2 linked regions of the Homo sapiens genome follow. The protein of the gene in region 1 purifies or fractionates together with the protein of each later gene. This does not show direct contact. Each region holds a gene or a part of one and is shown in the gene's direction. Other genes may lie near its edges.

Region 1 (3,652 bases):
AACTCATTTAGTCTTCATAGTAACTGTAGGAAGTTATTACTGTTACTATCCCCATCTTACCTGTGAGGAATTGTGGACACAGATGAACTTGCTCAGGGTGGCACAGCTCAGTAATGGCAGAGCTGGAATCTAAACTCAGGCTGACTTTAGACCTGTGCCCTTCACCATTGTGCTGTAATGTCTCCCGTAACATTTGAAGCCTTAAGAACGGATAACTGGCTGCGCATGGTGGCTCACGTCTGTAATCCCAGCACTTTGGGAGGCCGAGGCGGGCGGATCATGAAGTCAGGAGATCAAGACTATCCTTGCTAACACGGTGAAACCCCGTCTCTACTTAAAAAAATATATAAAAAATTAGCCGGGCATGGTGGTGGGTGCCTGTAGTCCCAGCTACTCGAGAGGCTGAGGCAGGAGAATGGCGTGAACCTGGGAGGCGGAGCTTGCAGTGAGACGGGATTGCGCCACTGCACTCCAGCCTGGGCGACAGAGCGAGATCCGTCTCAAAAAGAAGAACAGATAACTTCACCTGAAAGAGAATGTTGAACAAGAAGGTGTCAAAGATATTTGCTTTTTAATTTATATCATCCTGTATTGTATCATTTTTATGTAATAAGCATTGTTCATGTGTCACTTGTGTAATTAATTTTTAAAAATATTTTTATAGAAAAAGGGTAGACCCAGGATTAGAAAGTGCATCAGCTCCATTTTTCTCCTTGGTTAAGTCTGTCATGATCTCCTACCTTTGTGTTTGTCAACAAAGATGATTCCTGAGCTTGTAAGATGGAGGCATGAGATCTCCTCCAAATACTTTAAGTCCGTAGAGCACATAAGAGGTAATAAATAACTGGGCCGGGCGCGGTGGCTCACGCCTGTAATCCCAGCACTTTGGGAGGCCAAGACGGGTGTATCACTTGAGGTCAGGAGTTCGAGACCAGCCTGGCCAACATGGTGAAACCCTGTCTCTACTAAAAATACAAAAATTAGCTGAGCATGGTGATGTGTGCCTGTAATCTCAGCTACTCGGGAGGCTGAGGCAGGAGAATCATTTTAACCCACAAGGCAGAGGTTGCAGTGAGTCGAGATTGCACCACTGCACTCCAGCCTGGGCAACAGAGTGGGACTCCATCTCAAAAAAAAAAAAAAAAAATTATAGCCAATGTGATGGTGTGCACCTGTAGTCCCTGCTACTTTGGGGGCTGAGGCAGGAAGAACCTGGCTGGTCGAGGCTGCAGTGAGCTGAGATGGCGCCACTGCAGTCAAGCCTGGGGTACAAAGTGAGACCCTGTCTCAAAAAAAAAAAAAAGAGGTAATAAATAACTGATTGATTTGTGCCTCCTCCCTTATACATCGGTTCCTTCTAATGACTCCATCTCTTCCAACAATCCTTGTAGCAGGCAGCATGTCAGTAGTTCTGTTTTGTGTCTTCACCTAGGGAAACCATGAGCGTAAGGCAGAAAACCTGACCATGGGGATGCCCCAGGACCACCTTTCCCTGTAGGAAACAGTCTAGGGAGAGGCTGTCAGAGACAGGAACCACTGAGCCGCTTTGTGCACTTCTCCAGGTGTGCGATGACTGTGTGGTGTTGCGTAGTAACATCGGAACAGTGTATGAGCGCTGGTGGTACGAGAAGCTCATCAACATGACCTACTGTCCCAAGACGAAGGTGTTGTGCTTGTGGCGTAGAAATGGCTCTGAGACCCAGCTCAACAAGTTCTATACTAAAAAGGTACGCAGGATCTGTGTTTGGGTTGGGGCTAGTAGGCATTGAAGACCAAATAGTGAATTTCTCTTTGGGAAGTTAAAATTCCAAAACACACATCTGGAGCCACACTTCTGTCTCCAGCTGTTGGGTGGAGTACCTAAAGCTGTCTCTGTCAAGCCAACTAGGCCTAATAGTAGTCACAATCGGTATTAACCAACCATATCTAGCATTCCTACACATCTGTACCCATGCCTTCTTTAAAGCCATACTATTCATATGCTCCGGATCTATCATTCATAACCTCAACAATGAATAAGACATCCGAAAAATAGGAGGACTACTTAAAATTTTACCCCTCACTTCAACCTCCAGCCTTCAGTGGCCATTATAGAGCAGTGGGTGGGGAACCCTGGACAGCCCTCATGATGGGACCACTCTCCCCCTGTGCCACAGTGTCGGGAGCTGTACTACTGTGTGAAGGACAGCATGGAGCGCGCTGCCGCCCGACAGCAAAGCATCAAACCCGGTGAGGAGAGTTTTTCCTGAGAGTGTCTTCCCTGTTTCTACCAGTCCTTCTGAGTGTCAGGGGCCTGGCAGGGAAGTCAGGGGTGGGATTCCCCACCTCACCAGTGAGCTGATAGCCCCCTCCCTCACCACAGGACCTGAATTGGGTGGCGAGTTCCCTGTGCAGGACCTGAAGACTGGTGAGGGTGGCCTGCTGCAGGTGACCCTGGAAGGGATCAACCTCAAATTCATGCACAATCAGGTAGGTGCGAGCGGCAGCACGAGGCTCCCTGTCGTTCCATCTGTAAGAAGGACCAATGTCCAAGCCCCCAGTACTTCCCCAGCAAGCATGAGAGAGGGCCCTCTGGAGCTAGAGGGAGAACTGGAGCAGCTGGACCCAGGAAAGAAACCCCAGGGGAGGGCACAGTGACGTTGGCGACCACCTGGCGCTGTGAAGGTGCACCAGGGAGCCCGTGGGGGAGGCTGGGCAGGAGCGAGGCCAGGTGGCCACGCTGCCCCATCCGTTGGACTCCACACAGTGTGAGTGGGAGCGTCTCACTTGGCCCTTCCCCTGCAGTGTCTCTGCCTTCCTCTATTCCCAGGATATGCTTCTGCTTGGTGGTTTTGCTTTGAGAGTCTAGACTGGCCGATCTCCTTGTGTCTTTCTGGTGTGCGTGCAGCTTGCGTGTGCGTGCGTGCGTGCCTGCGTGCTTGTGTGTAAGTAGCTTGTATCTGTCCTCTCTGGAGTGTGTTTATTTGCCTTTTTCTTCTGCGGATTCTTCTTCCTGTTCTTTTCCTTCCTCTGAGTGTTCCCACTCTGTCCCCTGCTCCACAGGCCCCATTCCCTTTCTTTTGATTGGGGAGCACTTGTGGATACATCTTTCCCTCATTGTAATTCCACCATAGGAGCTGACTTTTTTTTTTCTCTCTTGGTCTTTTAACACAGTGTTACCTTTTTCTCTCAGTGGACATTCCTTAAGCTAATTCCTTTCTGAGGCCAGCGCATCATCCCAGGTCCGTTCACAGCTCTGACTCCTCACACAAGTGCCTTCCCTCCTCTTTCCCTGATGTCCGGGTTCCTCTCCCTGAGGCTCTGAGCCAGACCCAAATGTGTGAAGCCCCACAGACCCTGGCCAGGCCGCAGACCCTCAGGGGAGGTGGATGCCTGACTGACGTGGCTGTCTCCCTCCCTCCGCTAGCCGTTGTAGCTCTCTTTCAGGAACGTAGCTGGGCAGCTTTGGTTTAACAGGAAATGGCTGCGCAGGCTGCCAGCAGCCCCTTAGTATATTTTCAATTTAGGACTTAGGGCAGTAGCCAACCCCAAAGACCTTAGGACCATCCCAGAGAGGGGTCTACCTAAGTGCTTTTCTGGACCACAAAGGTGTCAGTACTTCTTGGGGAGCAGACTTCTGACCACATTTTAGCGCCGTGGCCTCTGAAGATGA
Region 2 (3,652 bases), on another chromosome or scaffold:
TTTTTTTTTTTTTTTTTTTTTTTTGAGACTGAGTCTCTCTCTGTCACCCAGGCTGGAGTGCAGTGGTGCCATCTCGGCTCACTGCAAGCTCCGCCTCCTGGGTTCACGCCATTCTCCTGCCTCAGCCTCCCGAGTAGCTGGGACTACAGGTGCGCACCACCATGCCCGGCTAATTTTTGTAGTTTTCATAGAGACAGGGTTTCACCATATTGGCCAGGGTGGTCTCAAACTCCCGACCTCAGGTGATCTGCCTGCCTCGGACTCCCAAAGTGGTGGGATTACAGGCATGAGCCACTGTGCCTGGCTGTCTAAGTGCCCTTCATAAGAACAGAGCTCTGCTCTTATAAAGTGGTTCTAAGATTTAACTTGTGAATATTATAATAGGAGAAAATACTCTCACTAGGATTGAATCTTAGTTTAAGATTATAGTTGAATGTCTTAGCAAGAGTTTATCATTTTTTCTTAGTCTCCCTTAGTGTATTTGTGTAGCAAATGGTAATTTTAGTGTACTCTTCAATTTACCCTAAATATTTCAACTCATATCTAAGGTTTTAGTGACTTAGTCGGATGTCTTCTTCTGTAGTGCCATCTTGAGGGTCATACTTTCAAGGAAGTAAACGTGAAGAAAGGAGAAATAGAAATTTAATAAAGATGAACTTCAGAGATATATTTATTTAAAATAAGGAAACAGTTCGGACACCATGGAACTTGTTTTGAAGTTATTTTACCCTAACTTGTATGATTGGAAGATAGTTTGTCTGTTAATTTTTAAATTATTTTGTTACAAAGCAGATAGTGATCTAAAACTGCAAAAAATTAAGTATGTTAACTGTTTAGAACTTCCTTGAATGCAGTTATTTAAGGAGAAAATTCACTGTAATGTTTATATTTTTAGGTTGCTGTGAGTCTAGGTACTCCAATTATGAAGCCAGAATGGATTTATAAAGCTTGGGAAAGGCGGAATGAACAGTAAGTGTTTAGAAACTCAGTAGTTCATTATGTAAATTAAACATTCTGGTTTAAAGATAAATCCATGTGCTGAAAAAAGTAATTTCATAGATATAAAAACTGAATTCAGTCTGAGTAGCTTGAGGAATAAAATCTAGGGAGAACAAGTTATAAAAAATTATAAAAAATTAAAAATTGAAAGATATCTTTGATATCTTTGGATTTTACCTTGTGAAGTAATTTTGGCTATTATAAACATTCTGAAATTATTAGATAATAGCTAAATAATTCTGTGTATTTGGATTTTGTTACATATTTTTAAAATTTTGTGTTATCTGGTTACATTTTAATTGGTGCTTGAAATTTATTGCCTTGTTTTGCTTAGTTTTCCAAGCGCATGATTTCTTGCTGTGGCACTTCATGAATTAAGATTTCATGAAAGTTATCATTATTTTAGATTTCATGAAAGCCTTGGAACACAGTACATATAAATCTTCAAATAATAGAGAAAAAATTTGAATCTCTTGTAAAGCTTATCTGTGATCACATTTTGTCAGAAGTTACTTTTGGGATGACAGGACACATCATTTTTTTAAACTGAAGTTTTTGTGAGCATTTCAGGACCAAATATTAAATAGTTTCAATAGATAGATTATGCCAAGACCTTGAAAATTACTGTAGGTTTGTAAATTGATATACCTAACACTTGAATTTAAGTTAAACTGGTTTTGGAAGAGTGTATTTTGTTTTTAGGGATTTCTATGCAGCAGTTGATGACTTTAGAAATGAATTTAAAGTTCCTCCATTTCAAGATTGTATTTTAAGTTTCCTGGGATTTTCAGATGAAGAGAAAACCAATATGGAAGAAATGACTGAAATGCAAGGTAAAATTTAGCATAATGTAAAAGTTATATCTATTTTAGTCCCTAGGCCTGCTTAATCACTTCCTGGTCAATATACCTCTTAAAAAATTTGAGTTTGGAAATAAGTAGCTTGGCTTATTTATGCTTATGTGCATTCCTTTTTAGGAGGTAAATATTTACCGCTTGGAGATGAAAGATGCACTCACCTTGTAGTTGAAGAGAATATAGTAAAAGATCTTCCCTTTGAACCTTCAAAGAAACTTTATGTTGTCAAGCAAGAGGCAAGTAATTCTAGAATGAGGTTGGTTTTTAAAAACACTATTAATAGCTTCTCTGATAAAATAAATGTAAACTGTTTATTAAAATGTTTTTTCTCTCACCTAGTGGTTCTGGGGAAGCATTCAAATGGATGCCCGAGCTGGAGAAACTATGTATTTATATGAAAAGGTATGCTTTTAACCCCTTACTTATTTGTTCTGTGAGCTTGATTGTTTGAAAATAACACTTTTCTGTCCAGAAGGTTTAGAAGCATGTTTAGGAATTTCAGAATGATTAAAACAATTGGGATATCAAGTTATCTTAGTCTATGTAGATTTAAGTGGAACTATTCAATGTAATGTGTATTATTTTAACCTAATATATGTTGTTCTGTGCGAATTCTTGGTGATAACATTACGAACAAGAACATCTCTATCTTCAGAAACTTAGACTTTTAATGGAAAGATAGATTTGTACGTAGTTAACGATGGGGAATGATGTGTGCCACAACTGAGTAATGTATTTTAGGTAGCCTCGCTCTGAGAGACTCAGGAGGGAATAAAAAGGTGAAATAAATGTTGACCCAACTTACTAGGCCAACTAGGTAAGGACATTCGTTAGAACCCCAATTGGGAGAGGGTATGAAAGCTTTGAGAGTACATTAAAATAACAAGTAGTTTAGTATGGCTTTACAGTGTGGGAAGGAAGGCCAACAGATAAAACTTAATGGATAGATAGAATCAAGAAGTTTTTAATACATTAATGAGCTTGGATATTATCCTATAACTATTGGGAGCCATTGAAGAAGAGTAAGGGGAGAGACGTCATTAAAAAGATGAGTTTGATAGTAGAATATCGTTAAGGAAAATCTAGTGTTTATGGTGAATCTTGGTGAAGAGTAGTATCACTCACCAAAATGACAAAGTTATGGAAGTAGTCTTTAAGGGAAGATTTACTTCAGTTTAGGATTTAATAACTTTGTGTGGAATATTGAAGATGAGTTGTTTCTGTAAAATCTATATAGTACCATATTGTGTTCTCTTCAGAGTCTTTGAAATGTGAAGTTCTTAAAGTTTAAAAAGTGTGCTTTAGATTTAGGGAGAGAACTCTTAAAAATCAAGTGTTACTCAGCACATATTGGAAAGCATTGTGTCCAGGCACTGTGCTAGGGATACAGCGAACAGACTGTGAATGGCCCCTGCCTTCTTGGAGTTGATGAGCTAATGAAGGAGCAGGTAGTAAACAAGTTTACAGATGAAAATATAATAGTGATAGTGGCTATGAAGAAAAATGAGGTGCTTGAGGTTAGACAATTACAGTCGTCTCTTGACTATTATGTTTTATGAAACTTTTGAATTGCCTGGTAGAGTGTAGGGTTATAAAATTATTGTGCAAAATCCAGATTCTGTCAGACTTGTAAATATATTTTTCTCTTGTTCCTGTCTCAGTAAAGAACCATGGAAGTAAATTGAGCTTGTGTGCTTTTGATTACAGGCAAATACTCCTGAGCTCAAGAAATCAGTGTCAATGCTTTCTCTAAATACCCCTAACAGCAATCGCAAACGACGTCGTTTAAAAGAAAC

Evidence for each region. The genes of interacting proteins can lie anywhere in the genome.
Region 2: the proteins of MADD (region 1) and ECT2 purify together in Homo sapiens (affinity purification with mass spectrometry; one large-scale study listed by BioGRID and IntAct). This does not show direct contact.

Annotation. Positions count from the first base shown.
Region 1 is NC_000011.10:47,322,109-47,325,760, forward strand, and holds part of MADD (MAP kinase-activating death domain protein), read left to right. Parts: intron 1-1,562; coding exon 1,563-1,727; intron 1,728-2,156; coding exon 2,157-2,229; intron 2,230-2,362; coding exon 2,363-2,469; intron 2,470-3,153; exon of another isoform or gene 3,154-3,225; intron 3,226-3,652. UniProt on the Homo sapiens protein: Guanyl-nucleotide exchange factor that regulates small GTPases of the Rab family. Converts GDP-bound inactive form of RAB27A and RAB27B to the GTP-bound active forms.
Region 2 is NC_000003.12:172,760,715-172,764,366, forward strand, and holds part of ECT2 (protein ECT2), read left to right. Parts: intron 1-895; coding exon 896-969; intron 970-1,701; coding exon 1,702-1,832; intron 1,833-1,976; coding exon 1,977-2,092; intron 2,093-2,195; coding exon 2,196-2,258; intron 2,259-3,563; coding exon 3,564-3,652. UniProt on the Homo sapiens protein: Guanine nucleotide exchange factor (GEF) that catalyzes the exchange of GDP for GTP. Promotes guanine nucleotide exchange on the Rho family members of small GTPases, like RHOA, RHOC, RAC1 and CDC42.